Linked DNA regions of Homo sapiens: regions 1, 2 and 3 are each linked to region 4. The links come from fine-mapping of genetic effects on gene expression. A gene starts in region 4. Each other region holds a variant in brackets. All regions are shown on one strand. Distances are from middle to middle.

Region 1 (8,100 bases), 40 kb after region 4:
ATGCCCAGCCACTCATCTCTTTTTAATGTCAGTTTGTTGATATGGTTTGACATTTCATTGAACTAGAAATAGACAAAGGTCAAAATGGGTAAGGAATGAATTTTCTCATAGTTCTTTTTTGCTGTTTACTTTAGCAGAGGAAGGTTTGGTTAATTGGCTCCCAGGAAAGAGTAAATGTGTGCACATGTGTGCAGGTGCTTGTACTTGTGATGGAAGCGTGCGTAAGGTAAGGAGGGTTGTCAGTGCAGCTTTATTTTACTTGGAAAAGGCTACCTTTAAAAGCAAAAGACAACTTCCTACATCCTTCATAAGAGCATTGGAAATCGTTTGATGAATTGGAAACATTTTCACTGCAGCTGATGTAGTTTTCACAGTGATTTCTGGCCGCAAGTAATGTTGCACAATTCATTTTATTCATGGATTAGATTTTGTTTGATAAAATGGAAAGAGAGAGCAGAATCTAAACTTAGGGTAGTTTTAGCACTCTATTCTTGACCTTGTATGAAAACTGGAATTTTTAGTGTTTTATTTTTTGGGTAAGCTATTCAAAAACTGTTGGCCTGTGAGGTACTAGTCATTTTTTTCTACCCTGTAATAATAAAGTCTGTCTCTGTTTTGTGGCAGCCACCAGATTATGTGTTCACTTTTATTCAGAACCTAAAGGCAGTATCAGCAGGGAATGAGTATATTGGGCAGAAAGGCTTTCATTTTAGCCTTTTTTAGCCTCCCTCCTAGCAGAGCCTAGGTTTTTCATGCGAAACTAACAGTAGTTCTTTGTGGGAGGTAGGGTTGCAAAAAAGTAAACAAATATACTGTGATGTTTTCCGCATCAAACTAGAGCTGAATTTCCATTGATATTTGATGAGAGGTATTGGCTTGCAATCTTTCTTTTTTTTTTTCTTTTTTTTTTTTTTTTTAGACGGAGTCTCACTCTGTTGCCCAGGCTGGTGTGCAGTGGTGCGATCTCAATTCACTGCAACCTTTGCCTCCTGGGTTCAAGCAAGTCTTGTTTCAGTCTCCTGAGTAGCTAGGATTACAGGCGTGTGCCACCATGCCTGGCTAATTTTTATATTTTTAGTAGAGACAGAGTTTCACCATGTTGGCCAGGCTGGTCTTGAACTCCTGACCTCAGGTGATCCGCCTGCCTTGGCCTCTCAAAGGTGGCCTGGCCAACGTGGTGAAACCCCACCTCTGCTAAAAATACAAAAAATTAGCCAGATGTGGTGGCACGTGCCTGTAATCCCAGCTACTTAGGAGGCTGAAGCAGGAGAATCGCTTGAGCCCAGGAGGCAGAGGTTGCAGTGAGCCGAGATCGTGCCACTGCACTCCAGCCTGGGAGACAGAGTGAGACTCTGTCTCAAGAAAAAAAAAAAAAAAAAAAAAAAAAAAAAGCGGATAGGTCAACATAACTGCGTGTTTACATGGTTTAATTTAAAAACAGAATCTCAGGAAGCTGCTCCTAATGTTGGTGGTTTGAAACCCCCCTCCCCCCATTTTAAGTGATTTTATATGCAAAGCCTTCTTGTCTTGCCCAAATTCAAGAAGTTGTCTTTGTTTCTAGGATGTGAAATCAGGAAATATATGTTTGTTGAAATGTATAAAGTAGTGGTGAATTTCAGCTCAACTGATTTGCCAGTATACAGAGAAAAACACCTGTTCTTTGAGATACACAGTGCCTGTTGGGAATCTGCAAAAATTGTTTGTTGGTAGTCACTAAACTCTTGTTACCCTGAATTTTATTCTCTTTCGCTTCCCCCACTACTAGCCTAATAAATATTTCAGAATAATAACAAAGTTTAAAGAAAGAATACTTAGCCTGTTCTTCTGAAGTAGTCTTTGTTTTTCTTCTCTGTTTACTAACCTCCTTTTGAGGATAAAATCTTATTTCCTTTCTTTATCCTGTAGTTTCCTTTGTACACTCATAGCCTTTCTTCAGATGCAGATTTTGCAGTCAGATAAAAGTCTCTACTTTAAGCACCAATTAAATCAGGAAAAGATGATGGGCCTGGAGTTATTGTCTTCAAGTTCCTGATTTTGAGGAAACTCTGATTATGTCAGTAGTGCAGTTATCTGATAGTAAGGTTACACTGTCCAAATAAGGTGACTTTGGAAGAAAATAACATAAAGCCATCTCATGATCTGGCAGCCTTTCGCTGTTTCGCTTTCTGCAGAGCGGCATTCCTTCTGCATGTCTCTGTCAGTCTCTGTGAGAGTGGGGTTTCTATCCACACAGCACTGCGGTGCAGCTTCTCCGTGTTGGCAGAATCTTCCATGCTCTGCTGGTTCGTTGTCTTTCCAGCTGTGCTGTGCAGTGCAATGTGCTGGCTGCTGAGCTCATGAGACACGGCCCGTCTCAACTGAGAAGTGCTGTGCGTATAAAACACACACCAAGTAGAGAAGACTTGATAGGAAAAAAGTGTAAGGCTGGGTGCGGTGGCTCATGCCTATAATCCTAGCACTTTGGGAGGCTGAGGTAGGAGGATTGTTTGCTTCCAGTTTGAAATGAGCCGGGGCAACATAGCAAGATCCCCTCTGAGAAAAAAAAGTGTAAAACATCTCATTAATTTTTATATCAGGTTGGGCGTGGTGGCTCAAGCTTGTAATCCCAGCACTTTGGGAGGCTGAGGCGGGTGGATCACCTGAGGTCAGGAGTTCGAGACCAGCCTGACCAACGTGGAGAAACCCCATCTCTACTAAAAATACAAAACTCAGCTGGGTGTGGTGGCGCATGCCTATAATCCCAGCTACTCGGGAGGCTGAGGCAGAATTGCTTGAACCTGGGAGGCGGAGGTTGCAGTGAGCCAAGATCGCGTCATTGCACTCCAGCCTGGGCAACAAGAGCAAAACTCCGTCTCAAAAAATACATACATACATACATACATACATACATTTTTATATCAGTTACATGTTGAAATTATAATATTTTGGGAATTGCATAAAATAAAATGTATTAATTTCATCTGTTTTTAATGTGGCTACTAGAAAATTCAAAGTAACATGTATGGCATGCCTTCTATTTCTTTTGGCCAATGCTGCTGTTTCTGAGAGATTGCAGGTTCATTGAGGGGGAATTTGCATGGTTTGTTTGTTTTTTGTCTGTATAGTGGTTTTGCCACCATTTCCAGGGAATTAGGTTGTGATTACATTTCTCTAGTGATACATGAATGACTGAGATCTTGTAATTTGTTTTGTTTTGCTAGTGATGATGGCCAAAGAGAAGCCACCGATAACTGTAGTTGGAGATGTTGGAGGCCGCATCGCAATCATCGTGGTATGGTTATATGTCATCCATGTGCAGAGGTGGCACTCCTGGCTCTTGGTCAGTAGGTTGTCCACTCTGGGACTGTATTTCTAGGAACGATGATCCGAATGGATCCATGTATCCTTTCTCACCCAAACTCCCTTGTGCCAAGTGGCAGAAACCTGTATCCAGGTGAACATACATTAAAGTATAACCTACAGATAGGAAATGAGCACAGTACTCCCGTGAGAAAATTCAGCACCTTCACCTTCATCATGTGGATTCTAGGTTCTTTAAACCAGCTCACCTAATCATGCTTGAGCGTTAGGGCCGAAAGATGAACTGAAGATGAGCTGTTCCGTTTTCACAAGTAAGAATGGGTGTCCCCGTGCAGACTCGTTCTGCATGTTGACATACTTTTTTTCCCAGCTCTAAATATCTGCTGGCTAGTGGGTCATGAGTCCTTTGCAGTAGCACACTTTATTTCAGTTTTCTTCTCATGTCACAGTCTATTTGAAAAAAAAATAAATGGAACGCTGGCTATGTGGGATTCACCAGAAACGTGAGACAGGAAAATGAGTGTTGGCAATCCTCAGCTCCAGCCGTAATGTCACAGGTGCTTGACTGCGCCCGCCTCTGACAGACAC[A/T]CAAGGTACTGTCAGGTGCTTCTGTTGCCATTTCTGGATGCTCGTTCTTTGACCCAGGCACACAGCTCTGATTTTCCATCAGAAATCCTCTGAAACTGAGTGCAGAAGAGAGTAGAGTGGTGTGTGCATTGACAGTATGGGCTAGAGGGTGTTTCTTTCCTACCAACTCACTCTGTTCTCCTCCCAGGATGACATTATTGACGATGTGGAGAGTTTTGTTGCTGCCGCGGAGATCCTGAAAGAGAGAGGCGCCTATAAGATCTATGTTATGGCCACCCACGGCATCCTGTCTGCAGAGGCCCCTCGCCTGATTGAGGAGTCCTCCGTAGACGAGGTCAGGCTGCTTCTAAATCTTGAGCCAAGATTTACTGCTGTGTTTTCTGGGAATAATAAAATGATTCAGTCAATACTAAATTGCTTAATCTGTCTATAGCTTTTCTAGCTTTTGCTGGCTAGCAGTTCGTTGGGACAGATACATGTTTAGGAATACAGATAGTCCACGACTTACCATGGTTCAACTTAGAAGTTTTTGACTTTATGATGATGCAAAACCATTGCAATTACGATGTAATGTATAGTATTCGATAAATTACTTGAGACACTTTATTTTAAAATAATCGCTTTTATTATAAAATGAAAGCCTTTGCCCTAGATGATTTTGCCACCTGCAGTCTAATGTAACTGTTCTGGGCATGTTTAAGGTAGGGCTAGGCCAAGTTAATGATGTTTAGTAGGTTAGGCGTATTAAATGCTTTTTTTTTTTTTTGAGATGGAATCTTGCTCTGTTGCCTAGGCTGGGAGTGCAGTGTGGCAATCTCGGCTCACTGCAACCTCTGCCTCCCGGGTTCAAACGATTCTCCTGTCTCAGTCTCCCAAGTAACTGGGATTACACGCGCCGGCCACCAGGCCTAATTTTTGTGTTTTTCTTAGAAACGGGGTTTCACCATGTTGGCCAGGCTGGTCTCAAACTCCTGACCTCAGGTGATCCACCTGCCTCGGCCTCCCAAAGTGCTAGGATTACAAGCATGAGCCACTGTGCCCGGCCTAAATGCATTTTCTACTTAAAATATTTTCAACTTATAATGATGCGTTTATCCAGACATAACCCTGTCATAAGTTGAGAGTTATGTTGAGGGTCTGTATATGTCTATTTGCATAACGGTTTGCTTGGGTACTTTAATTTGACACCCTAGGAGCATTTCTCTTGAGGCTGGAATTCTTCCCTTATGATCTGAGAGTTTTGCATAGCACTGGGGCTCACTGTGTTTCTGCATGGAGACCATGCCATTCCTAAGATTTTTGTCTTGTGTTCTGAGGCCATGTAACTTTTCCTTTGCATAAAATTAGTTAATTTTGGTTTATAAAAACTATACTCGGTGGAACAAGGTTTTGTAGTTTGGAACTTAGGCTGTGGGAACTCAATGTTAGATAAGCTTTTCTGTGTAACCAGCTTGGAGAACAGACTTCAGTAACAGCGTTTGTTTTCCATCACTGTGTGACTAGGTGGTGGTGACGAATACTGTCCCTCATGAGGTTCAGAAGCTGCAATGTCCCAAGATAAAGACTGTGGATATCAGTTTGATTCTTTCTGAAGCCATTCGGAGAATCCACAATGGAGAGTCCATGGCCTACCTTTTCCGAAACATCACTGTGGATGACTAGCTTTCACGAGGGTCTCGACCCTGGACCTCCTGAGGGAAACATGGAAAAAGCAGTGCCATGAGTGATACAGTGTTTCCTTGCAAGGGAGGACTCGAAACAGCCTGGAGTTAGATATCTTCTTTTGCCCGGATTGATGGGGAGGAGGGATTAAAAGAGTCAGGAAGAAGACAGAGCTAATGGATAAATATCATAACATGGCCTTACATGTCTGCTGTCATCAGCCCTGTTCCTTAAAAGTTCTAGCTGCTTTCTTAAAAATAATCTGAAAATCTTATTGATACTAAAGAGGAGTTAAAGGCACATAAAGTCTTAACTCTATAATGTTCATTTAGTTGTTTCAGCTCCAGGGAAATGGAGGTATTGATGTTGAACCTGGTTAGGGAAGCTGAGCGCCTGTGGCCCTATTACTATCCAGTTGGCCTCTCCCAAATCAACTTCAAGTCTTTTATAGAGAATCGTATTTTTCTTTCAGAAATTGTTATGCCTACAGCCATTGAAAAATGAAGCATTCATGTTGTTACATCTTCCAAGGATGTCAGATTAGAAAATAGCATCCCACCTCTGGGTATCTGAGTGGCTCTGAAGTTGCAAATAAAATAATTTGTTGTCTTGCTAGTCTTTTCATTAGACAGCAGAAGACCATGGATACAGAACAGCAGTCAGGTCTGTGGCTGGACACAAACACTTTCCCAGGTTCCACCCTCTTCCTAAGTGTTGAAGCTAAATCCTTGTTGAATACTGTATTTTAAATCTTTAAAAAAAAAAAAAAAAAGTCTAGGTGTGGTGGCTCACACCTATAATCTGAGTACTTTGGGAGGCTGAGGCAAGGAGGATTGCTTGAGCCCAGGAGTTTCAGACCAGCCTGGGAAACATGGCGAAACCCCCATGTCTACAAAAAATACAAAAATTAGCCAGGCATTGGTAGCATGTGCCTGTAGTTCCAGCTACCTTGGGAGGCTGAGGTGGGAGGATTGCCTGAGCCAAGGAGGTTGAAGCTGCAGTGAACTATGATTGTACCACTGCCATCCATCCTGGGTGACAGAGCAACACCCTGTCTCAAAAAAAAAAAACAGGCCAGGGATCGTGTCTTATGCCTGTAATCCCTGCACTTTGGGAGGCCGAGGCAGGTAGATCACCTGAGGTCAGGAGTTTGAGACCAGCCTGGCCAACATGGCAAAACCCCGTCTCTACTAAAAATACAAAAATTAGCCTAGCTAAGTTAAAAGCATAAAAAGACTACAAAGAGGCCAGGCATCATGGCTCACGCCTGTAATCCCAGCACTTTGGGAGGCCGAGGTGGGCAGATCACTTGAGGTCAGGAGTTTGAGACCAGCCTGGCCAATATGGTGAAACCCTGTCCCTACTAAAAATACAAAAATTAGCCGGGTGTTGGGGGAGGGGGTGCACGCCTGTAATCCCAGCTACTCGGGAGGCTGAGGCAGGAGAATTAATTGGTTGAACCCAAGAGGCAGAGATTGCAGTGAGCTGAGATTGTGCCACTGCACTCCAGCCCAAGTGACAGAGCAAGATTCCATCTCAAAAAAAAAAAAAGACTGCAAAGAACTAGTTATTTTGATAACCCCTTAAAGGCCTACTGTGTCCCAAGTTATTGGAATATAATGATGATCGAAAATCCTTCAATTAAATAAACAGTACCTCTCAGGCTGAAGTGAAAAATCTGAACTTGAACAGTAGTTAAAATAGTACAGTTATTCCTTACAATCCATGGGTGATTGGTTCCAGGACTCAACCTCCTGCCCATGGATGTGCAAGTCCCTGATAGAAAATGGTGTAGTATCTGCATATAAGCTATGCACATCCTGGATGACTTGTAATACCTACTGCAATATCCTGTGTAGATGGTGGTCATGCTGTATTATTTAGAGAATCATGACAGGAATCTGTACGTGTTCAGTCGTGGTTGGTTAAATCTGCAGATGCAGAGCTCACGGAGGAGGCTGGCCATGCATGGCACACATTCATAGGTTCTCTTTAAGTAGCCTTGCTGTGCTTCTGTTAGGAAGTTTTATTTATACGTTTTTGGGAAGAATCTTGTATGGGGAAGTCATGTCTCAATTGTTAACACCAGATTTGTCTCGTGCTGTTTAATCCTGCTTTGTAATGAGCTCAAGCACAGGCGCTTGACCAGGTGAGTGGTTTCTTTTCTTTTCTTTTTTTTTTTTTTTGAGACAGAGTCTTGCACTGTCGCCCAGGCTGGGGTGCAGTGGTGCGATCTTGGCTCACTGCAACCTCTGCCTCCCGGGTTGACGCGATTCTCCTGCCTCAGCCTCCCGAGTAGCTGGGATTACAGATGCGCGGTACCATGCCCGGCTAATTTTTTGTATTTTTAGCAGAGGGGTTTCACTATGTTGGCTAGGCTGGCCTTGAACCCCTTACCTCAGGTGATCCACCCGCCTCGGCCTCCCAAAGTGCTGGGATTACAGGTGTGAGCCACCAAGCCTGGCCGTTTTTTTGAGATCAATTAATTTATGGCAGGCTGGGCGCGGTGGCTTACACCTGTAATCCCAGCACTTTGGGAGGCCGAGGTGG
Region 2 (8,100 bases), 370 kb after region 4:
TAAAAGGTATGATCTAATGCTGATAGACTGAGTGGGGAGGCCCAGCAAGGCCTGTCTGTCTAGATTCTTCTTGGCCTCTTGGAACAGGCATTCCTTCCTTCTGGGTGTGGGGGAGGACCCTCTCTGGAATGGAGTCTTATGGCCTACAGTCAAACAAGCTAGGTCAGATAATTTCTTTTTGGCCAGTTTTTACACCAAAAGAAGGAGGGAAAGTTAAGAGTAATATATTTAGGGTTTTTTTTGTTTGTTTTTTGAGACAGAGTCTCACTCTGTCGCCCAGGCTGGAATGCAGTGGTGCAATCTCGGCTCACTGCAACCTCTGCCTCCCCGGTTCAAGCGATTCTCCTGCCTCAGACTCCCGAGTAGCCGGGACTACAGGCACATGGCACCTCGCTCGGCTTTTTTTGTATTTTTAGTAGAGACGGGGTTTCACCGTGTTAGCCAGGATGGTCTCGATCTCCTGACCTCGCTATCCACCTGCCTTGGCCTCCCAAAGTGCCAGGATTATAGGCGTGAGCCACCGCACCCAGCTTATATTTAGGGTTTTATGGCTGGCTTTGGGGGTAAATGACTCTGTTTTCTATGACCTGCCTTGGGGAAGAGGATTCTAACTTCTCTGGCTAGGCTCGGGGGAGAATGCACCTGAGGGAGAGGAGGACAGAAGGTAAAAAAAAAAAAAAAAACAACTTGCTTTGTGGGTTGCTTCTGAGGCCTTCATTTTGGGGTATTGTTTTCTGAGACCCAACACTACAAAACAATGGGCTTATACACTTCAAAAGTGTTAATGTCAGCCAGCCAGGCGCAGTGGCTCACGCCTGTAATCTCAGCACTTTGGAAGGCTGAGGCGAGCGGATCACATGAGGCCAGGAGTTGGAGACCAGCCTGGTCAACATAGTGAAACCCTGCCTCTAATAAAGACACAAAAATTAGCCAAGTGTGGTAGTACATTCCTGTAGTCCCAGCTACTCTGGAGGCTGAGGCATGAGAATCATTTGAACCCAGGAGGCGGAGGTTGCAGTGAGCTGAAATCATGCAACTGCACTCCAGCCTGGGTGACAGAGGAAGACATCATCTCAAAAGAAAAAAAAAAAGCGTTAAAGTCACAGAAGAAAAGTTCTTTGTTCTATTCTTGTAATTCTCGTGTAAATTTGAAATTATTTCAAAATAAAAACTCAGCAAATTTAGCTCTTCATCTAAGTCTTTTCTATTCAATGCTAAGTACACCCCTTATCATTGTTACATTAAGAGCAATTGGTTTCCTAGAATATTAGAACTAGAAGGTCAGCTGTCAAGCAGCCATTTGTTCACTCCACAAAGATTTCCTGAGCACCTTTAGCGGGGCAGGCACTGTGCCAGGTACAGAGAATAAACTAGACACCCTCTCTGCTGTTGAAGGGGCCTGAGATCAGCAGCTTAATAAGACAAATGAGGATCCTGAGGTCCTAGGGGTTAAGAGTGTGTATTATAGTTCTATTATTCAAATTATGAATGTTATGCATCTCTCGTAGTTTTACTTCTGAGAAAACCAAAGTCATAGTATTACACAGACTACAGACAGGCTAGGCGCAGCGGCTCACGCCTGTAATCCCGGCGCTTTGGGAGGCCGAGGCAGGTGGATCAACAGGTCAGGAATTCGAGACCAGCCTGGCCAACATGGCAAAATCCTGTCTCTACTAAAAATACAATTAGCTGGGTGTGGTGGCGAGCCCCTATAATCCCAGCTACTCGGGAGGCTGAGATAGGAGAATCGCTTGAACCCAGGGGGTGGAGGTTGCAATGAGCTGAGATCATACCACCACACTGCAGCCTGGGCGACAGAGCGAGACTCCGTCTCAAGAAAAAAAAAAAAAATGACTAGAGATGATTCAACAAATCCCTGAATCTCCCTTGTCTACAATCCCACTGGGCAGAACTGTTTTTGTTTTTTGTTTTTTTTCTGTAGAGACAGGGTCTCACTATGTTGCCCAGGATGGAGTGCAATGTCACAATCTTGGCTCACCGCAACCTCCACCTCCGGGGCTCAAGCCACCATCCCATCTCAGCCTTCAGAGTAGCTGGGACTACAGGCGCATGCCACTACACCCAGCTAATTTTTTGGTATTTTTTGTAGGGATGGGGTTTTGCCATGTTGCCCAGGCTGGTCTTGAACTCCTGGGCTCAAGTGATACGCCCGCCTCGTCCTCCCAAAGTGCTGGGATTCCAGGCGTGAGCCACCGCGCCCGGCCCTACACTAGGTTTTAACAGTAAGTGTGCATTTCCCACTTTGATGACGGTGATGGCGAAAGCAAAGAAGTCTGGATTCCAAGACCTCTAGTAACTGCCAGGTTGCGGGGGAAAATGTCTGGTTTCCCAGACAGAAGGCTTAGAGCAGCACCGCCCGCTTGGTCTCATTCTAAGTCCCCGTCCACCCCTTGAACAGCGCTCACAATCCCACACCCAGGGCCCCGGAACCCACGCCTCTGCCAGTAAAGACGCCATTATCTTAACAAAAGGTAACTGGAGCCTCTCCCCAAAGAGACTGGTTCCCGTCCCATTCTTCTCCAATCCGGGTGGATTTGGCAAAAGCCCAAGTGACCCTCCCTAGCAATTCCGCAAAGCCCCATCTCCCGCCCCAGACTCCAGAGTCTCCCGACCACTCTCATTTCGGAGAGGCCTAGGGGCACGGACCCGGAAGCGTGACAGAGGCCGCGGGGTAAGAGGGGGGCAAGTGCAGGCGCAATCCCTCCTCAGCCTCGTTGTCCCGCCCCCTTCCCAAGGCCCCAGCCAACCTGTTCTAGGCGTCGCCGGTCCTCGGATTTCTTCTTTCCGCCTCGCGTGGTCACGTGACGGGGGAGGGGCGGGATACAAAAAGTGCTTTATTTTCCCACTCCCCGGACGCCCAGCAGGGCAGTTTCTTGACCTTCGGAGCCCCTTTCCCGAGGATCCGCTCGGGAGCCTCCCCTGGCCAGGAGCAGGGGATTAGTCTGCCCCGCGACCGGCCCCAGCCACGACGCGGACATCGCCCCCTCTGTCTGGGCCGCTGTCACTCACGCGCCAAAGGGCCACGGAGAAAGAAGGGGCGGGCCGGGGCGGGCCGGGCGAGCGGAGGCGGGGACTTGCGCCGTCCTGAGGCTGCCTCCTAGGGTCCGGCCGGCGCTGGAGCTGCGGATTTAGATTGTCACTGCCACCTCGGTCGGTGCTTACTTCGCTGCCAGCTGGTCGTCGCCATGAACCCGGACCTGCGCAGGGAGCGGGATTCCGCCAGCTTCAACCCGGAGCTGCTTACACACATCCTGGACGGCAGCCCCGAGAAAACCCGGCGCCGCCGAGAGATCGGTGAGGGCGGCGGGCGAGACCTCCCTCCTTTCCCGAGAAAAGCTGGAGACTCCCTCGATGCGGAGTCAGGGGCGCTGTGGGGCCTAGGCCCTCTGGCCCAGCGTTAGGGGAGCCGGGACCCCCACTTCGAGGAACAGCCTGTGTCCCTGGTGGGGGGATATCGCCATTCCCCAGGTGTGTCCGCGACTCTGAAGCCTATTGTGATTCAGGGAGGGTGGAACGGAGGCCCGAGTGTCTGTCTGCCTTTTAATGCCCTTTAACCCCCTTTCAGAGAACATGATCCTGAACGACCCAGACTTCCAGCATGAGGACTTGAACTTCCTCACTCGCAGCCAGCGTTATGAGGTGGCTGTCAGGAAAAGTGCCATCATGGTGAAGAAGATGAGGGAGTTTGGCATCGCTGACCCTGATGAAATTATGTGGTTTAAAAAGTAGGTATGCCTTAGAACAGAGCAAGTGTTGTTAAGCCTAAACTTTACAGCTGCGGTCTATGGTGGCCTTTCATCACCGTGCTTGGTGTTTGAAGATGCAAACTGGCATATTTTCATGCAACTTTATAAAGTTATATGTGTGGCCGGGCGCGGTGGCTCACGCCTGTAATCCCAGCACTTTGGGAGGCCGAGGCGGGCGGATCACCAAGTCAGGAGATCGAGACCATTCTGGCTAACACGGTGAAACCCCATCTCTACTGAAAATACAAAAATTAGCCGGGCGTGGTGGCGGGCGCCTGTAGTTCCAGCTACTCGGGAGGC[T/C]GAGGCAGGAGAATAGCGTGAACTAGGGAGGCGGAGCTTGCAGTGAGCCGAGATCGCGCCACTGCACTCCAGCCTGGGCAAGAGTGCGAGACTCCATCTCAAAAAATAAATAAATAAATAAATAAATAAAGTTATATGTGTGAAAAATAATGTGATCACTTTTGTATCCAAGCCTTTTCGTGGGATGACGTGTTTGTAGAATGCTGATAATAAATGGAAATGCAGGAGTTTTTGTTCTCAAGAGTACAGTTTCAAGGATGTTGTAAAAGCATTGTTCTGCCCAAGCAACTCAAATTTGACTGATTTAAATGCAGAATCATTTTGCTCTTTGTAAGGAGGACTGCTAAAATTCTGAATCTGGGAGCATTTTTTTTTTTAGTTGCACGACCATTTAAATATTTTGGAGCAATAGCAGATTATATTATATGGTAGTGTGGACCTGGATGAAGAATGATCTGTGACGCCTCTGAATGAATAGAAAGTCTAAGAACCCAGTAGTTCTGAATCCATGACAGTGCTTGAATGGTTGTCTTGTGCATATGAGAGAGACGTCATAAAAACCTGCCTTGGTTCTAGTGTGGAAGAGAGTATATCCTTTTTTCAGACCATGTGTTTTGTTGTGTTTTTTGTTTTTGTTTTTGTTTTTTGAGACGGAGTCTCGCTCTGTCGCCCAGGCTGCAGTGCAGTGGCACGATCTCGGCTCACTCCAGCCTCCACCTCCCGGATTCAAGCGATTCTCCTGCTTCAGCCTCCTGAGTAGCTGGGATTACAGGCGCCCGCCACCACACCCGGCTAATTTTTGTATTTTTAGTAGAGATGGGGTTTCGCCATGTTGCCAGGCTGGTCTCAAACTCCTCACCTCGTGATCCACCCTGCTCCACAAGGAACGGTAAAAATAAATAAAAATAAGGACTTCGGGCCGGGCACAGTGGCTCATGCCTGTAATCTCAGCACTTTGGGAAGCCAAGGCAGGTGGATCACTTGAGGCCAGGAGCTCGAGACCAGCCTGGCCAAAATGGTGAAACTCTCTCTACTAAAAATACAAAAATTAGCCGGGCCTGGTGGTGCGCTTCTGGGGTCCCAGCTATTCAGGAGGCTGAGGCAGGAGAATCCCTTGAACCTGGGAGGCAAAGGCTGCACTGAGCCGAGATCACGCCACTGCACTCCAGACTGGGCAACAAAGAGAGACTCTGTCTCAAAAAAAAAAAAAAAAAAAAAAAAGACTTTTTTGCCTTAACCTAAACAAACACTATTACATGATCCTAGTACAAGATTATTTTGGCCTATAGCATTTTTTTCTCATTTATTCCTGGGCATTTTCTCTTTTAGGTTTCTCCATTTTAAAGGAACTCCAGTATTTTCATCGGTAAAGACTAAATCGTATGAGTGGTGTATAGACTAGAACCAAGCTAAATAGAACATGTTGCACGTTCTGCCTTTATGGTAATAATGGTCACTGCCTCTAGTGCCTTTGGTATCGATTTTCAGCTTGACTTGGGTTATTTTTGTGAAGATGAAATGGTTTACTCTGGCACTTTGGACTTTCCTCAGAGCTCCACTCAGTTTTAAACGAAAAAATTTTGTTTATTTATTTTTGGTAGTTCAAATCAGCATACTTCCAAATGGTCTGTTTTGTTTTTGAAGTTTGTAACTCATGGCTGTGGGGATATTGAGATAGAGTAACTCCTCCTAGAAGATTATGTTACTGATACCTGTGTTGTGTTTGTAAATTTGAAAAAATTAGTAAGATTTTATTCCTTCTTGAAACGTCAGGAAAAAAGTGGGTTGAGTGTGTGTGTGTGTGTTTGAATGGGTGGTGCAGTGCATTTCAAAGCTGATAGAGATGATTTCATAACCTGTGACCTGTTGATAATGTGAACCAGACTCGAGTGAGGTCACAATGAAATAGAACAAAGTCTTTTATGCGGGTTAAAGATTCATGGACACCGGGAAGTTGTTTTGTGTATCATTTTTCATGTGAAGTATTAAAGTACAAACTTTAACACACCCTTTGACACACTTCCAATGTCCTTAGGATATGACAAGGAGATCAGTTTTTAAGTAAGAGAAGGGGTTTGTAAATGAGTCCTGGAAATTATCGCATGCTATCGAGTTAAAGCCTCGGTTATATAATCTCATCGATTATAACTCACACCAGTGTTTTGTGTACCACTAAGAAAGAAAGAATGCTGCCAGTTAACCGTGACATGCTATTAATTGTGAAATACATCACCTTTCTTTCTTTTCTTTTCTTTCTTTCTTTCTTTTCTTTTCTTTCTTTTCCTTTCTTTTTCTTTCTCTTTCTCTTCCTCTTTCTTTTTCTTTCTCTCTCTTTCTTTCTCTCTCTCTCTCTCTCTCTGCATTTCCATTTATTTCCATTATCAGCAGGTGAAGAGGCATCTGCCACCTCACCCAGCTAACTTTTGTATTTTTAGTAGAAATGGGGTTTCACCATGTTGGCCAGGCTGGTCTCGAACTCCTGGCCTTGTGATCCACCCGCCCCTTCCTCCCAAAATGCTGGGATTACAGGCATAAGCCACTGCGCCTGGCTGAGAAAACATTTTTAACTGATGTTAATGAGCAGCTTCTAAACACATGATTAGGACGCAGAAGTCGTTCCCTCTGGTGGAATCTATAATGATTACATTAATTCATTTTGATTAATTAGAAATATTCGTATCTAAGAGCATCCATGTTGAGAGTTTTTTGTTTCTAAGTGGATTATGATTTATGTAAGATAGAAAAGACAATGGGACTGGGGCATGGTGGCTCACGCCTGTAATCCCAGCACTTTGGGTGGCTGAGGTGGGCAGATCACTTGAGGCCAGGCCACTTCATGACCAGCCTGGCCAACATGGCAAAACGCCTTCTCTACTAAAATACAAAATTAACCGGGCTTGGTGGCACACGCCTATAATCCCAGCTACTTGGGAGGCTGAGGCATGAGAATCACTTGAACCTAGGAGGCAGAGGTTGCCGTGAGCTGGGATCACACCACTGTACTCCAGCCTGGGCAACAGAGGGAGACTGTCTCCAAAAAAGAAAAAAAAAGAAATGGCGGGGATAACCGTGTAGTACTTATTTAGGAAATAGAAAAATAAGGGTATATTGTGTTTACTATTATTTCTTTCTTTCTTTCTTTTTTTTTTTTTTTTTTTTTTTGGAGACAGAGTCTCGCTCTGTCGCCCAGGCTGGAGTGCAGTGGTGCGATCTCGGCTCACTACAAGCTCCGCCTCCCGGGTTCACGCCATTCTCCCGCCTCAGCCTCCTGAGTAGCTGGGACTACAGGAGCCCACCACCACACCCGGCTAATTTTTTTTTTGTATTTTTCGTAGAGACGGGGTTTCACCATGTTAGCCAGGATGGTCTCGATCTGATGGTCTCGATCTCCTGACCTCGTGATCCACCCGCCTTGGCCTCCCAACGTGCTGGGATTACAGGCGTGAGCCACCGCGCCCGGCTACTATTATTTCTTTTAAGGTGGTAGTTTGGTTTCAGGGTCCCCCAGCACTGCAATGGCAGCCTATCCCTTCTGTCCTTTAGTTCATGCTCTGCTCATTGCACAGGTTAGGATAAACTGGTAGTAACATTGCTTCCTAATCATGTGTTGAGAAGTCGTGAAGATCAGTTAGATGAGATGTATTTTGTACTTTAAACTTTTTAGATACGAGCTTTGTCAAAGTACAAAATTGATCCCTATAAAATCTATGACACAGCACAGCCAAGGCCAACTACTGTGGATTCTGTTTTGTAAGAAGAGAGTTGAGGACTAAATTTCAATGTGATGTAGAGTTAATCCGTAGTAATGTTCATTGACCATTGGGGATAAATTTTTACATGCCCACATTACTTATTGTAAACCCTGAAGACCTTTAGCGATGTATGATTCTGCCCTGGAATATGTATTTACTCTTTTGGATATTTGCTTATATTATCTAGGGAAACATAGTTGAAATTATTTCTTCCTTGGAGCTCTTGTTAACAGCGCTATAAATAAGTGTTCTATGGAGTTATTTTTGCTCTTTGAAACAAA
Region 3 (8,100 bases), 52 kb before region 4:
TTGGGTTTATTCCAAGGTTTAGTTTTGTTCACAAATCTGGTGCTTTCCCAGAGTGGGCACAGTGCCCTCTAGTGTTCACCTGCCAGGCCGGCTGGCACCTGTCATTTGCTCTTTGGAGGTAGAAGGGGAAGTGGAGGGCAAACTGTGCCTAGCAGGCATCCGCAGTCAGTGGCCACCATTGCTGCCTTCCACTTGCCTCAGAAATGAAGAGAGTTTTTCTTTCTTTCATAAGCAGAAGAATCACTGTCTTTAAATGTGTAGACCTGCCAGAAGTCTTTCCCTGTCTCTGTAGCTCTGGGGAGAGATGAGCTTTTTATTTGGTTAAGAGAATGGACTCTGGAGCCAAACTGCCTGCGTTCAGGTCCCAGCTCCACTACTTGTGACATTGAATGAGTTGCTTATTTTCTCTTGGTCTCAGTTTGCGTATCTGCAAAATGAGCATGGCAGTGATGTGCTTCATGGGTTGTGGAGCACCTCATGGGCGAAGACAGTGAAACGCTTGGAGAACTGTCTGCCAGGTAGGAAGCACCTGGTTAGCATGAGGCGAAAAACTCCAGAGCTCTTGCATTCGCCAGGAGCACGTCGGTTCCTTCCTGACGGGGGCACTGAAAGGCTTTGTGAAGCAGGTTGTGCATACGGGGGCAGGGAGAGGAGGACATTTGGAAGTAACTGTTCAGTGGAGTGGCTCACAGATGGGAGGGTATGGGCTTATTTGGAGAAAGCCAGTGCCCAGTATGGGTGGGGTATAGGAAGTTAGGAAGGAAAGTCACAAGAGCCTCCCAAGTCATCCTAAGTCCTTCCACATGCCGTTGTCTTGGGTTCTAATTCCCAGTGGAAGGGAGTGTAGCCACCATGTTACCATCCCCCAGCCCCTTGTCGCTCCCACTCTGCTCCCAGCACCATCAGGTCTTTGGAGAAATGTAACTCCTTGTCATAGAAAGGTCAGAAGAGCCCCTGGAGGCAGCATCCTGGTGAGGTGGAGCTGCTGTTGTCTGGAGACCCCACGGGAAGAATGGCATTTGCTGCCAGCCTCCCTCTCCTGGGAGCACTGGGCACTGCCTGCCCTGCCAGCCTCTGGCCTTGCCATGATGCCAGCTTTCACCAGCTGTTTTTTTCTGCTTCAGCCTCAGAGTTGACACCTCGGTTTCCCCTGCACTCCCAAGGGTGCTGTTAGGCTGAACAGGGTGTTTCATCAGTGACGGCACTGATTTAGGTCTGTGTCTGCGTTCTTCTCTCCTCCTTTCCTGGCTGCTCTCTCAGGGACCCCCAAGTGGTGGAGGCAGCCCTCCTGCCACACATGGTGCAGCCCCCCTTGCATTGGATTCTCCTGTCCTGCCGCTTCTGGCTTCTCTGGGAGCAATTGTGGCTTTTTGAAGTCTAAAATGGGAGCAGGGGATTAAGATAGGGTGGGGCAGCACAAAAAAATGCCGTATCTCAGAGTGGAGATTTGGGCACAGAGGGTTACAGGCACAGAATATTCTTTGATTTAGAAAAGTGGCACCGTCACGCCAGCATGCCTCTCCAGCCTCCTGGGGTCTTGGAGCAGAGATAAGGAGAGCCTGACCTTTCAGGGGTCTTCACCCTGCAGCTCACAGGGCCAGTGATCACAGCTGCCGACCTTGCTGAGCACCTACTCTGTACCGTGCACCATGTGCCACCTGCGGTCCGCTGCCTTGGTGACTCCACCTCAGCCATGCTGAGACAGCTGCCATCATCTCTCCTTCCACATGTCGGCAGGAGTGGTTTGCCTGACGTTCCTGTGTCTGACTCAAGAACCCTGCGTTTAAGGACTGGGCAAGTTGTCATTTGAAACAGGCTCATACCTGGATGCAGTGGCTCACGCCTGTAATCCCAGCACTTTGGGAGGCTGAGGTGGGCAGATCACGAGGTCAGGAGTTCGAGACCAGCCTGGCCAACATGGTGAAGCCCCATCTCTACTAAAAATACAAAAATTAGCCGGGCGTGGTGGCACGTGCCTGCAGTCCCACCTACTCGGGAGGCTGAGACGGGAGAATTGCTTGAACCTGGGAGGCGAAGGTTGCAGCGAGCCGAGACTGCGCCATTGCACTCCAGTTTGGGCAACACAGCGAGACTCCATCTCAAAAAAAAAAAAAAAAAAAAAAAAACAACTTGGGCTCATGAGTTCCCATGGGACTCTCTGCACTGCTGGTTGGTGGTGGGGTTCATTGCTTTTCTTTCCTTTTTTTTTTTGTGAGTCACGTTCTTCTACTAGCAGAGTTTGTTTTAGTTGTCATTGCCAGCATTTAAGTGACCTTGAGCCAGTATCTTCCTTTTTCGGCGACTCAGTTCTCCTTTCTTGGTGGTGACCTCTCAGTGCCCCCAGGTCAAGAGAGGCCACCACGGAGGAGTGTCTGGTTGGCTATTTGAGGAAACAGCTCTCCAGCCATGTGGTTTGGGGTCTCGGAGGTGGACACACACAGAGACCCATCCATGATTATGACCCAGTGAAGAACCATAGAGGAGCTGCCCCAGGTTTGAGGAACCAGCTAAAAAAGACGCAGGCTGGCCTGGTGGGAGCATCACGTGCCTGGGCTTTTGGGCGATGGAGCAGCAGGAGGCAGTGGCCGCTGCCAGCTGTGCGTAAAGAGACAATCAGGTGCTCGTGCAGTTGGCCGGGCTCCAAGAGCCAACCATCCTGAGGGTTACTTAGCAGCCTGCAGGGCTCCAAGCGCAGCAGATAAGGTGCAGGCCGCAGCTGGTCAGGAGGATAACCCAGATTAGAACATGGTGTCCGGTGATAGCCAGGCTTCAGGGTGACCCACCGCAGCCCAGTGTCCTGCTTCTCCCCCAGCCCACTCTCCCTCAGCACTGATCAGCTAGGGCAGGCACTTGCAGAGGGCAGAAAAAAGATTGAACGCAAAGCAAATGTTTTGCTCTCTGTAGAATGGGCTGTTAAATCCTTCATTAAAGTGCAGCCTTATGTGATCTGTCATTGAGCTGCACTGTTCAGTGTGAGGAAGGCTACCTCCGGCAAGCCAAGTGCCTCTGGTGGGTGAGACAGTGACCACAGGGGCCCCAGGAGGCCTGTGGGCGTGACGCGCTCTGCCTGTGGGTCTGGGTGCTGGTCGGAGGTGTGTGCGGTCTGTGAAGATACTGCTAGCCAAACGCTTAGGATTTGTGCACTTAGCAGTGTGGATGTGACGCTTTCCTTCAGAAGCTGGAAGAAAACTGTATTCTGTGGTGGCTTCAGAGTCCATTCTCTCACACCTGTATTTTCTTTTACAGCTGAAACTAGAGGACCGTTCTGTGGTGCCCCGAGATGTGGTCCGGCACATGCGATCCACCGTGAGTCCTGCGTCCCCACCCCAGCCCCGGGCCTGGGGGCAGCCACCTTAGGGACTTGAGCCTGCCCACCTC[G/A]CACTCTGCATGTGGGAGAACTGGCCAGCTCTGCAGGGGGTGCGCTGGGGTTGCCTGGGCTGGGTCTCCCCTGGTGACCAGGGCTGCTGCACCACGGGACTTGCATGTCTCCTCCCTCCCCCAGGACAGTCAGTGTGGCACGGTGATCGACGTCAACATCGACTGTGCCGTCAAGCTCATCGGCACCAACTGCATCATCTATCCCGTCAACAGCAAGGACCTGCAGCACATCTGGGTGAGCCGGCCCTGTCTTCTCATCATCCTTTCTGGGCCCTCTGGTTCTCTCGGCGGCACGACCTCTGGGCTACAGCCTCCTCCGTGCTCTTGCCAAGCACAGCCTTCCTGGGTCAGAAGGCGGAGCACAGCAGCCAGCTGGCTCCTGTAGCCTTGTTTTCGCTGCTTTCAAGTAAGCCATTTAGACATGAGGTCAGGACGTGCCCTTCCCCAACCCCAGCATAGGCTGCCAGTGTGGTTATCTTTAAGTGTTTTTCCTTTCTCCTCTAACATTTCTTTAAAAAAATAAATTATTGGAAATAGTTTATTTTTTTAATGATTTCAAACTTACCAAAAGTTGTAAATTCCTGTGTCCCTCCATCCAGGTTCCTCAGCTGTTAAGATTTCACTTCGTTTGCTCCATCACCTTCCCTCCCTCCTTTTCCCCGAGATCCCCCTCCGGTCTTTTTTCTTCCCAAAACATTTGACAGCAAGCTATAGATGTGATGCCCTGTCACCCACCCCGGAATACACACACCTCTTGTGTGTTTTCCAAAAATGAGGACAGCCTCCTGTGCAACCACCATATAACCCCCAGATTGGGAAATCAACGTTGATAATTACTGTCCAGTCCACAGACCACATGCAGTTGTCCCAACACTACTCTTTTCTTCTTTGCGGATCCAGGACCCAATTCAGGAACACATCTTGCATTGAGTTGTCATCTCTTCATTTTCTCTCCAATCTGGAATCGCTTCCCAGCCTTTCTTTGTCTTCCATGCCCTGAACAGTGATACATTCAGTAATTTGACCCTCAGCCTGGGTCTTCCTGGTGTTGCCTCATGCCCACGTGTTCTTGGCAGGCCCGCCGCAGAGCTCTGCCCTGGTTCATGGTACCCCATAGCCAAAGTGCTGGGGTTGTTCACTTTTACCCCTGGTCATGTTGGTGTCCACCAGGTCTCTCCACCATAAACTCACCATTTACCCCCTTTAAGTGATTGTATTTTGTGGGAACGTAGTCCCAGATTATGTCTATAACCTGTCATTTGTCAAACTGAAATCCACCAGCTTTGGCCTCCATTCACAGTTCCCCCTGCGCCAGCCATTGCTCTGATGTTGCTAAATGGTGGTTCTATGACTCCCTTGTTCCCCTCATTTCTTTTAGCTGGCATTCTGCTCTGTAGAAGAGCTTTATCTTCTGCCCTATTTATGTATTCTTTTTTTTTATCAGTATGGACTTAGAGATTTCTGTTTTATTCATTGGTTATAATTAATTACTACTATTATCTGTTCTGTTGCTTGGATGGTCCCAGATTTAGCCAGTGGGAACCCCTTCAAGCTGGCTTTCATGTCCTTCTCACATGGCCCTTTTTGTTGGTTTTTTAAGAACTTTCTTTCTTTCTGGCATGAGATGTGCCAGGCTCATCTTGTACTTTTTGTGATCCAGCCCCAGAATCAACCATTTCTCCAAGAAGCCTCATTGTTTTCAGAGAATGGTATTTTTAAAACCCAAGATCTGGATGCTAGGTGTGCTAATTGCTACTTGGCTCTTTTGGGACACACTAGGAAATACATATGTATTATATGTATACACACATCTAAATATGTCACTACCTGCTCTATGTGTATATTAAAATATATGAGTTCAGGCAGAGTTCACGGGCGCAGTGGCTCACCCCTGTAATCCCAACACTTTGAGAGGCTGAGGCAGATGGATCACTTGAGCTCAAGAGTTTAAGACCAGCTTGGGCAACATGGCGAAACCCCATCTCAACCAAAATATATGAAAAAATTGGCCAGGCACGGTGATGCATGCCTGTAGTCCCAGCTACTCAGAAGACTGAGGTGGGAGAGTCGCTTGAGCCCAAAGATGGAGGTTGCATTAAGCCAAGATCACACCATTGCACTCCAGCCTGGGCAATAGAGCAAGACCCTGTCTCTAAAAAAAATAATAATAAAGTAAAATAAAATATATGAGTTCATCCTGATAGATCCACTTCCACCTAAACACCTCAGACTCCTCTTCCTTCTTCTCCTTCCTGCTCCCTTTCTGTTAGTAAACACCTGGGCACCTTCTCCAACAATGAGGGACTTGGCTCTCGATATCCTTGATGTGTTAACGTATTTACTCAGAGCACTGTCCATGTAGCCACCCCCCAGTGGTGTGGCTGCCTCCTCTGCCTGCCACCTCCACAGCCTACTTTGCCAGGTGTCCTGTGTCCATGGATGTCCCATGTCCATGGATGCCATCAGGCCTCTCTGCCCCTGCATCACCCACCCCGTTCCCTCCAGGCAGCCCCACCACCACCACCACTTCCTCCTCACTGGGAAGAGCAGCTGGGATGCAGCCTAGAACTTGTAGGGAGGGCCTGCTGCAGCAGCTGTTTAGGGCTAGTAGCCAACCGGTCCAGTCAGTGAGCTGTCTAGATCCTCCCCCATCCTGTCTTCGGTGGGGCATAGAGGAATCTGTGCCCTGGACATGAACGTTGTCTGCTGTGTCTCACTGCCCCTGCCTCCTTGGTCTGCAGCCCTTCATGTATGGGGACTACATTGCCTATGACTGCTGGCTGGGGAAGGTCTACGACTTGAAGAACCAGATCATCCTGAAGCTATCCAACGGCGCCAGGTAGAGTCTCACCACCAGAGAGCCATCGGCTTGGGAAGGATAGCCTCTTGGAAAGAGGGGAGGAGGAGGGTGTTTCCTCCTGGGGACAGTGATGACAGGTTTGATCAAGGGCAGTGACAGATGTTGCAGGCATCCAGGGCCTAACCCTGTACCGTTCTCCTTATCTGCCGTGGCCTATTTCTGTTGCTCAGTTTCTGATCTGTCCTGGCATGGGGAGAAACGTTTTCACTGAGGATATCTGCTAGAGGCTGATGCTTTACTTGAGGCACTGTGATGGTGCTGAGCAAGCACTCCAGTGGCACTTGGGGTCTTGTTCGTTGTGGGAGAGTTTCTTGTACTACCTCGGGCTGAGTTGATGGTAGAAGACGAATTGTGCTATTTAGGGCATGTGGGCGCATTGGCATCTCAGAATCGCAACTTTTTGGTACTCACTGTGTCCCCTGGTGGAGACCAAACCTCTGTTCTCTGTTTTAGGTGCTCCATGAACACGGAAGATGGCGCCAAGCTCTACGACGTCTGCCCGCACGTCAGCGACTCGGTAGTGTGCTCCATCCAGGCCAGCACCCTTCTCTGATTGCTCAGTCCTCTGGAAGGAGGACTTCGTAGCAAAGACCTGGACCCAGCTAAACAGAGCGGTTTCCTAGAAAAGGGGCGGGTGCGCGCCAGAGGGTCTAAAAGTTTGGGTATAGGCAGAAAGTATTAGAACTTTTTTTTTTTTTTTTTTTTTTGAGACAGAGTCTCACTGTCGCCCAGGCTGGAGTGCAACGGTGCGATCTCGGCTCACTGCAACCTCCACCTCCCGGGTTCAAGTGATTCTTTGGCCTCAGCCTCCCGAGTAGCTGGGATTACAGGCGTGTGCCACCACACCCGTCTAATTTTTGTATTTTTAGTGGAGATGAGGTTTCACCATGTTGGCCAGGCTGGTCTCGAACTCTTGACCTCGGGTGATCTGCCCACAGCCTCCCAAAGTGCTGGGATTACAGGCGTGAGCCACCGCGCCCGGCAGTATTAGAACTTTTATTTGCATTTTTGGTAGCTTTTTTTTCTCATCCTTTAAGGTTCCACTTTGTCTCTCTCAGTACAGGATGATGTGTTAGTTACAATAGTACATGGACACACACAGCAAACAAGTAGATATACAGGGGGTGCGTGAGCAAACAGGTTTCAGGACCACTGCTCTCTGGAGTCTTATTCCTCAGAGTATGAGCCCTTGACCAAGGAGCATGGAATGCATCACCTATGTTTGAACAAGGGCGCCAGATGACCTCTGCGGACCCAGGGTTTGGGAAGTGCTGATGTGGAGCCACAGGACTTGTTTTAGGGCGTGTGGGGCGTGTGTGTGAGTGGGCTTCTGCAGGTGGGCAGCCAGCGGGCACAGGCGTGGAGAGCATGGTCACCCATGGAGACACCGCTCACGGGGACTTTCCTTTGGCCCCACATCCCGCAGGGTCTCTTCTTCGATGATTCCTATGGCTTCTACCCAGGCCAGGTGCTCATTGGCCCTGCCAAGATCTTCTCCAGCGTCCAGTGGCTGTCAGGTGTCAAGCCCGTGCTCAGCACCAAGAGCAAGTTCCGAGTGGTGGTGGAAGAGGTGGGTCCGGGCCCAAGGGTAGGAGATGGAGTCCTTGACCTCCACACCCTGGAGCTGAGCTGCTGCCCCTTTCCTTCCTGCTCTTGAGGGTTGAGCCCCGCTCCTCAGCATCTGGACCCTGTTGATCTCAAAGGGCTTTGGGGATAAAGGGAACCCAGGCTCTGGTCATAGTGACCAAAAGACAGATGTGCCCCAGCCCAGCCTGTACAGGCTGAGCAAGGTGGGAGGGTGGCAAGTGGCAGTTCCAGTGGCCCCTGGCTGGTATGAGCAGTGACACTGGTCCTGGGCATTG
Region 4 (8,097 bases):
AGGGATCCTCCTGCCTCATCCTCCCAAGTAGCTGGGGCTATAGGCTGATTAACTTTTTATTGTTGTTATTGAGACAGAGACTCACTCTGTTGCCCAGGCTAGAGTGCAGTGGCACGATCTCGGCTCACTGCAACCTCTGCCTCCTGGATTCAAGTGATTCTTCTGCCTCAGCCTCCGGAGTAGAAGGGACTACAGGCATGTGCCACCACATCTGGCTAATTTTTTTTTTTTGAGATGGAGTCTCGCTCTGTTGCCAGGCTGGAGTGCAGTGGCTTGATCTTGGCTCACTGAAATCTCCACCTCCTGGGTTCAAGTGATTCTCCTGCCCCAGCCTCCCGAGTAGCTGGGACCACAGGCGCGCCACCACCCCCGGCTAATTTTTGTATTTTTAGTAGAGATGGGGTTTAAGCATGTTGACCAGGATGGTCTCAATCTCCTGACCTCGTGATCTGCCCACCTCGGCCACCCAAAGTGCTGGGATTGCAGGCGTGAGCCACCGTGCCCAACCTGTTTTTTTTTTTTTTTTTTTTTTTTGAGAGGAGGTCTCACTCTGTTGCCCAGGCTGGCACAATCTCGGCTCACTACAACCTCCGCCTCCCAGGTTCAAGCGATTCTCCTGCCTTAGCCTCCCAAGTAACTGGGATTACAGTTGCCTGCCACCACACCTGGCTAATTGTGTGTGTGTGTGTGTGTGTGTGTGTGTGTGTGTGTATGAGAGAGAGATGGAGTCTTGCTGTGTTGCCCAGGATGGAGTGCAGTGGCCTGATCTCAGCTCACTGCAACCTCCGCCTCCCGAGCTCAAGCGGTTCTCCTGCCTCAGCCTCTTGAGTAGGTGGGATTACAGGTGTGTGCCACCGCGCCACCACATCTGGCTGATTTTTTTTTTTTTTTTTTGAGACAGAGTCGCGCCCTCGCCCGGTCGTCCAGGCTGGAGTTCAGTGGCACAATGTCAGCTCACTGCAAGCTCCGCCTCCCGGGTTCACGCCATTCTCCTGCCTCAGCCTCCCGAGTAGCTGGGACTACAGGCGCCCGCCACTGCGCCCGGCTAATTTTTTGTATTTTTAGTAGAGATGGGGTTTCACCGTGTTAGCCAGGATGGTCTCGATCTCCTGACCTTGTGATCCGCCCGCCTCAGCCTCTCAAAGTGCTGGGATTACAGGCGTGAGCCACCGCGCCCGGCCACATCTGGCTAATTTTTTGTATTATTAGTAGAGACAGGGTTTCACCATGTTGGCCAGGCTGGTATCGAATTCCTGACCTCGTGATCCACCCACCATAGCCTCCCAAAGTGCTGGGATTACAGGCATGAGCCACCGTGCCCAGCCTAATTTTTGCATTTTTAGTAGAGACAGTGTTTTGCCACCTTGGCCAGGCTTGTCTCAAACTCCTGACCTCAGGTGATCCACCCACCTCAGCCTCCCAAAGTGCTGGGATTAAAGGAGTGAGCCACCACGCTCAGCCAACACCTGGCTAATTTTTGTATTTTTAGTACAGATTGGGTTTCGCCATGTTGCCCAGGCTGGTCTTGAACTCCTGACCTCAAACTATCATCCGCCTCGGCCTCCCAAAGTGCTGGGATTACAGGCATGAGCTACTGCACCTATCCCATTCCCCCTTTTTTTTAAGAAGGTAACAAGGTTTTTGTCAGGGTCTGTGAGCTGGACATGTGTGCAGTGGTTAAATAATTTGGCCTAGGCTGTGCACCCACTGTCCTTTTTTTTTTTTTTTTTTTTTCTAGAGAGCTATTGGAATAGGGGCCAGGCTGCTGCAGGCTCAGGGCAGCTCAACTTCCAAATCCTGTAGCTTCAGACTTGTGGTCCTTCACGACATGCTGAGTCACAATCTACTGCTCCCTCAAGCCCAATGTCACCACAAGCAGAGTCTCTAAAGGACATTCTCAGAAGATGGTACTGTCAATGTGAGAGGCACCTCTCCTCCCCTCGAGTTCTGGTGCAGCTGATAACTAGAGATCTCAAATGCTTCCCTGGGCTTTACTTTCTACTTCAACAAGTACTGATTGCGGGCCTCTGGAGCCCACACACTGCCCTATACACTGGGTAACACGGAGCACTCAGGAATACACGATCTTGGCGGGGCGTGATGGCTGAGGCCTGTAATGTCGGCATTTTGAATGACTGAGGTAGGAGGATGGCTTGAGCCCGGGAGGTAGAGGCTGCAGTGAGCCGTGATCGCGCCACTGCACTCCAGCCTGGGCGGCAGAGGGAGACCCTATTTCAAAAAATAAATAAATAATAATAAAATTAAAAAAAAAAAAAAGGAACTCACGATGTGGCCGTAAAATGGGTTACATCCTAGTTAGGAAAATAGATGTTTGCAAAGGTACATAAATATGCAAGCATCAAAACAATAACAACAACAACAAAAATTTAAAAAATGCAAGCATCTACGTGTGGCACAGTCCCGCGGGCCGGGCGGCTTACTGTGGTTGAGGTCACCAGAAAGACTGTGGAACAGACGCATCGCGAGTGGGTCTCGGAGGGGTGGCGCATATGGAAAGAGGAGAAGGAGGGCTTTTTTGATTGAAAGCGAATACCGGCAAGAGGGCCTTTGGCACGTTCAGGGAACCTTGCCTTACACGCAGACACAGGGTTGGGGATCTGTTCGGAAACGCCTGAAAGATCAGGCTCAGGAGAAGACCACTTTTTGGCCGCTTCAGTACTGCGGTCAACCAGCTGGAAAGAACCCCCGCCCTCTACTTTTCAAATTAATCTCCGGCCGGCGCACGCGCCTCGTGGGGCGGGCGCTGTGCTACCATAGACATGCAGAGCTAGATCGTATACCTCCTCGGAGGCGGACATGTTGGGTCCTGGCCAAAAAGTTGGAAACACCTGGGGCCACTACCGAGGTAGGCTGCTCCTCCCAAGAAAGTGAGACCGAAAGAGCTCCCGTGGAAGCGGTCAAAGCAGGGGCGGGGCGAACCTGTGACATGCCCCTCGGAAGAACAGGCTTTTAGAGAGTCGCCAGGCTCCCTGCCCTCATCCGAGATGGCGGCCTGAGGGCGCTCTAGCCGACGCTCTTCGGATGCCCGGAGGGGGCGGTGGCCTTGCCTCTGGCTCTGAGGCGGCGGCGCCGGGCGCTGCGAAGGCTCGGCCGCTGTAGTCAGTGGTGTGGGGTGCGCAAGGGCACGGACCTCGGAGCTCTCCCCGCTTGCGCCGAGTTTCTCAGCGCCTTCCCCACCCAAACCGGGGTCTCGCAGTCGGAAGCACTCAGAGTGCAGCCCCGCGCGGGGCCGGTCGTAACCGCGCCGCGGGCCGGACGATGCCCAAGAAGCTGCTGCTGTTGCCCCCGCCCTCCGCGTCCTCGGCTTTCCGCGTCCCGCGCGCCCGCCCCGTTCCCCCGCCGGCCATGAACGCCGCTCGCACCGGCTACCGAGTCTTCTCGGCCAACTCCACGGCCGCCTGCACGGAGCTGGCCAAGCGCATCACAGAGTAAGGGGGCGGTGGGAGGGCCGGGCCGGGGGCGGCGGCGCCTAGCTCTCCTTCGCGCCCGGAGGGACCCGCTCCCCTCCACCCGCCCCACCTCCTGCACCTGGGGCGGGAGGCGCGGGCCTTCCCAGCCGGACAAAGCTTGGAGGTGACGGATACCGCCCCCCGCTCCCCGGTTTTGCAGCTGGGAGGCTTGGGGCGGACTCTCGGTGACCTCAGCCCCCCGCCCCGTGACTGGGTCCGCGGCCTGCCTGCCTTTCGTCTCCGCAGTCCCACACCCCGGGGCGGGCCGAGCTTTCTGGAGCCCCGGAGTGCGTGTCTTGGGGAAAGGGGCTCAGGGCTTGGCTTCCTTTCCCACGGCTGGAGTTGACCTGGGAATCTGACCGCCGCCACTCTCAAGTCTCACTGCAGTGAGACCCGCGGGCGTGGTTGTGAGTTGGGGGATCCGACGCGGCAGGTGCGGTCGCAGAGCAAAGGTGTGGGGACTGGCAGTGCGAAGAAGGCAATTCCAGGGAGGCAGATGGGCCGGAGCTGGTGGTAGAAATGACAGGCCTGACCCTGCTTTGTAAATCAGCTTGGGATAAGATCAGTCATTTGTGTCTTTAACCCAACCAAGCCCCTGGTCTTAAGTCGCCTTTGGGGTCTGACAGCTCTGAGATGCCCTCCCAGCCTTGCCACTTACTAGCTCTGTGTCAGTGGGCAAGAGACTTGATTTCCCTGAACCTCATCTGTGAAATGGGCATGGTTGAGAATATTGTATGATCGGGATAATGTAGAAGTAGTATCTGGTTCTAGCAGAGTAGGGGCTCATAGTGGCCCTCTGAATAGTTGTTTACTAAGTGGCCTCTTTTCTTTTTCTTTTTCTTTTCTTTTTTTTTTTTTTTTTTTTTTTGAGACGGAGTCTCGCTCTGTCACCCAGGCTGGAGTGCAGTGGCGAGATCTCGGCTCACTGCAAGCTCCGCCTCCCGGGTTCACGCCATTGTCCTGCCCCAGCCTCCCAAGTAGCTGGGACTACAGGCACCCGCCACCACACCCGGCTCATTTTTTGTATTTTTAGTAGAGACTGGGTTTCACCGTGTTAGCCAGGATGGTTTCGATCTTCTGACCTCGTGATCCGCCCGCCTCGGCCTCCCAAAGTGCTGGGATTACAGGCTTCAGCCACCGCGCCCGGTGAAATGGCCTCTTTTCTAGTTGGCTCTTTTGGAGAATCCCAGAGCTCTGATATAAAGGAGGAGCCTTATATGCCCTTTCTACATACACTTGTTAGAAATCTAAGACATAAAATGAATAGCTCGTCTTTTAATATTTAAAGCCATTTTCACATTTTAAACAGTTTTCATAGAGTTACTTCGTTACTTTTTTAGGGTTGACAAATGATTGCAGGGATATATCTTAAACTTCTGGGGGGAAATGTAGAAGAAAGGGAAAACTTTAGTCATTTTTTTTTCAGCTCTGCTTGTTTTTTTTTTTAATAGTTGGAGTTTTGGAGAGTGGAAGAATGTTAAAAAAACAAATCAATCCTTTTGCAGTCTACTACCTAGTTTCTATTTCTAACCCCTGATTGTTTGTCTTTCTTTCTGAGGCCAACGAAAACACTGACTTTAAACGAAGCTTCTGTGTGTATCTAGTGGTTCAGATTTACCCTACCTGACCTTGAGGGAGAGCAGAGGGGAGCAGGGCACATTTTAAAAGTCAGTGAGGGTTTTTTTTGTTTGTTTGTTTTAGATTCTTTCCTGGCAAATTCCCGAAAGATTTTGAATTACTATAAATGATACATATTCATAAATACTTCCCTTACCTGTTTTACTTGTCGCTCAGTAAGATTTTGTTTTATCTTATCTGTTTTATTTATTTTGAGACAGTCTTGTGTCACCCAGGCTGGAGTGCAGTGGTGCCATCTCGGCTTACTGCAACCTCCACGTCCCAAGTTCAAGCGATTCTCCTGCCTCAGCCTCGAAAGTAGCTGGGATCACAGATGCCCGACACCACACCTGGCTAGTTTTTTGTTTTTTGTTTTTTGTTTTGAGACGGAGTCTCGCTGTCGCCCAGGCTGGAGTGCAGTGGCGCGATCTCGGCTCACTGCAGGCTACGCCCCCAGGGTTCACGCCATTCTCCTGCCTCAGCCTTCCGAGTAGCTGGGACTACAGGCCCCCGCCACCTCGCACAGCTAATTTTTTGTATTTTTAGTAGAGACGGGTTTCACTGTGTTAGCCAGGTTGGTCTCAATCTCCTGACCTCGTGATCCACTCGCCTCGGCCTCCCAAAGTGCTGGGATTACAGGCGTGAGCCACCGCGCCCGGCCACACCTGGCTAGTTTTTGTATTTTTAGTAGAGATGGGTTTCACCACGTTGGCCAGGCTGGTCTCAAACTCCTGACCTCAGACGATCTGGGATTATAGGCGTGAGCTACTGCGCCCGGCCCACCTGGAGTATTTTTAAAAATTGTTATATACATAACATAAAGTTTACCTTTTTAACCGTTTTTTGTTTGTTTGTTTGTTTTTGAGACGAAGTTTTGCTCTTGTTGCCCAGGCTGGAGTGCAATAGAGCCATCTTGGCTCACCCACAACCTCCGCCTCCCGAGTTCAAGTGATTCTCCTGCCTCAGCCTCCCAAGTAGCTGGGATTACAGGCTGCACCACCACACCCCGCTAATTTTGTGTTTTTAGTAGAGACGGGGTTTCTCCATGTTGGTCAGGCTGGTCTCAAACTCCCAACTTCAGGTGATCCACCTACCTTGGCCTCCCGAAGTGCCGCCTTTACAGGCATGAGCCACTGTGCCTGGCCTACCTTTTTAACCATTTTTAAGTGTACACTTCAGTGGCTTTAACTACATTCACAGTGTTGCACAACCATCACCACTATTCATTTCCAGAACTTTTCATCATCCCAAACAGAAACTCTGTACCCATTAAATACTAAGTCCCCATTCCCTGGTAGCCTCCATTCTACTTTGTCTCTATGAATTGCCTATTCTTGGGACTTCATACAAATAGAATCATAGCGTTTGTCTGTGTCTGGCTTATTTTCCTCAGCATACCTTGTCCAAGGCTCCCTCATGTCATAGCACGTACCAGAATTTATTCTTTTTTTTTTTTTGAGACGGAATCTCACTCTGTCGCACAGGCTGGAGTGCAGTGGCACGATCTCTGCTCACTGTAAGCTCCGCCCCCTGGGTTCACGCCATTCCCCTGCCTCAGCCTCCCGAGTAGCTGGGACTACAGGCGCCCTCCACCACGCCCGGCTAATTTTTTGTATTTTTAGTAGAGATGGGGTTTCACCGTGTTAGCCAGGGTGGTCTCGATCTCCTGACCTCGTGATCCGCCCGCCTCGGCCTCCCAAAGTGCTGGGATTACAGGCATGAGCCACTGCGCCTGGCTGCAGAATTTATTCTTTTTTTAAGGCCAAATAATATTCCATTGTATGTGTATACCTGGCTGGAGTTTTGTTGTTTTTTTTTTTTGAGATAAAGTCACCCAGGCTGGAGTGCAGTGGCACAATCTTGGCTCACTGCAGCCCCCGCCTCCCAGGTTCAAGTGATTCTCGTGCCTCAGCTCCCAAGTAACTGGGATTACAGGTGCCCACCACCACACCCAGCTAATTTTTGTGTTTTTAGTAGAGATGGGGTTTTTCCATGTTGCCCAGGCGGGTCTCGAACTCCTGGCCTCAAGTGTTCTGCCCACCTTGGCCTCCCAAAATGCTGAGATTACAAGCATGAACCACTGCGCCTGGCCTGGCTGGAGATGTTAATTTTATTTTTTTTATTATTATTTTTTGAGATGGAGTTTCGCTCCTGTTGCCGAGGCTGGAGTGCGATGGTGTGATCTCGGCTCACGGCAACCTCTGCCTCCTGGATTCTGGCAATTCTCCTGTCTCAGCCTCCTGAGTAGCTGGGATTATAGACGCTCGCCACCACACCCAGCTAATTTTTGTATTTTTAGTAGAGATGGGGTTTTATTATATTAGTTAGGCTGGTCTCGAACTCCTGACCTCAGGTGATCCGCCCACCTCAGCTTCCCAAAGTGCTGGGATTGCAGACGTGAGCCACCGCACCCGGCCTGGAATATTTTTAAATAGATTATCTTACATCATATCATTTCACTTGTAAAAAGAGTAATGCTTACTAATCAGGACTTAAAACCTCACACTACTATTAATTCCTTAATATTATGTAGTATCTAGTCTTTGTCCATATTTCTCTGATTATTTTTTAAAATGGCTTTTTTTTTTTTTGAGACGGAGTTTTGCTCTTGTTACCCAGGCGGGAGTGCAATGGCGCGATCTCGGCTCACCACAACCTCCGCCTCCCGGGTTCAAGCAATTCTCCTGCCTCAGCCTCCCTAGTAGCTGAGATTACAGGCATGCTCCACCATGCCCAGCTGATTTTGTATTTTAGACGGGGTTTCTCCATGTTGGTCAGGCTGGTCTCAAACTCCCGACCTCAGGTGATCCGCCCGCCTTGGCCTCCCAAAGTGCTGGGATTACAGGCATCAGCCACCACGCCTGGCCAAAAATGGCTTTTTACACTTGGTTTATTCTAATTAGGATCCAAACAAGATCCACACCACATTTGGTCAGAGTGCTGAAGCCTCTTTCCTTCTCTATGCTTTTGATAATTGAGGCATTTATCTCTGGTGTGTGTTATTGAAATC

The links.
Region 1: its variant is fine-mapped to the expression of PRPSAP1 in cerebellum (GTEx, PIP above 0.99). The same link has a PIP of 0.9 or more in cerebellar hemisphere, cerebral cortex and prefrontal cortex.
Region 2: its variant is fine-mapped to the expression of PRPSAP1 in ovary (GTEx, PIP 0.94).
Region 3: its variant is fine-mapped to the expression of PRPSAP1 in whole blood (TOPMed, PIP 0.95).

The regions. Positions count from the first base shown.
Region 1 is chr17:76,308,992-76,317,091 of GRCh38, reverse strand. It overlaps PRPSAP1 (phosphoribosyl pyrophosphate synthetase associated protein 1), which reads left to right. Exons shown (of 10, transcript NM_002766.3): 8 at 3,201-3,271; 9 at 4,076-4,222; 10 at 5,392-7,614. The coding sequence ends at 5,550. It also overlaps a transcript of QRICH2 not described here. Among named protein-coding and RNA genes, the nearest start is that of QRICH2, 4.8 kb to the right of the region's middle. The variant A/T (reference allele first, on the strand shown) is at 3,889.
Region 2 is chr17:75,974,180-75,982,279 of GRCh38, reverse strand. ACOX1 (acyl-CoA oxidase 1) reads left to right here and starts at 3,114. Exons shown (of 14, transcript NM_004035.7): 1 at 3,114-3,315; 2 at 3,587-3,746. The coding sequence starts at 3,207. TEN1 (TEN1 subunit of CST complex) reads right to left here and starts at 3,040. Exons shown (of 4, transcript NM_001113324.3): 1 at 2,769-3,040. It overlaps TEN1-CDK3 (TEN1-CDK3 readthrough (NMD candidate)), which reads right to left and starts at 3,063. Exons shown (of 10, transcript NR_037709.1): 1 at 2,769-3,063. RefSeq lists enhancers at 2,552-2,651, 2,773-3,356, 3,222-3,451, 3,357-3,940 and a silencer at 3,072-3,141. The variant T/C (reference allele first, on the strand shown) is at 4,068.
Region 3 is chr17:76,400,719-76,408,818 of GRCh38, reverse strand. It overlaps UBE2O (ubiquitin conjugating enzyme E2 O), which reads left to right. Exons shown (of 18, transcript NM_022066.4): 2 at 3,247-3,306; 3 at 3,503-3,613; 4 at 6,120-6,217; 5 at 6,692-6,755; 6 at 7,665-7,808. Among named protein-coding and RNA genes, the nearest start is that of SPHK1, 20 kb to the right of the region's middle. The variant G/A (reference allele first, on the strand shown) is at 3,379.
Region 4 is chr17:76,348,886-76,356,982 of GRCh38, reverse strand. PRPSAP1 (phosphoribosyl pyrophosphate synthetase associated protein 1) reads left to right here and starts at 3,067. Exons shown (of 10, transcript NM_002766.3): 1 at 3,067-3,449. The coding sequence starts at 3,280. RefSeq lists enhancers at 2,721-2,990, 2,237-3,101, 3,951-4,010, 5,550-6,097 and a silencer at 3,271-3,590.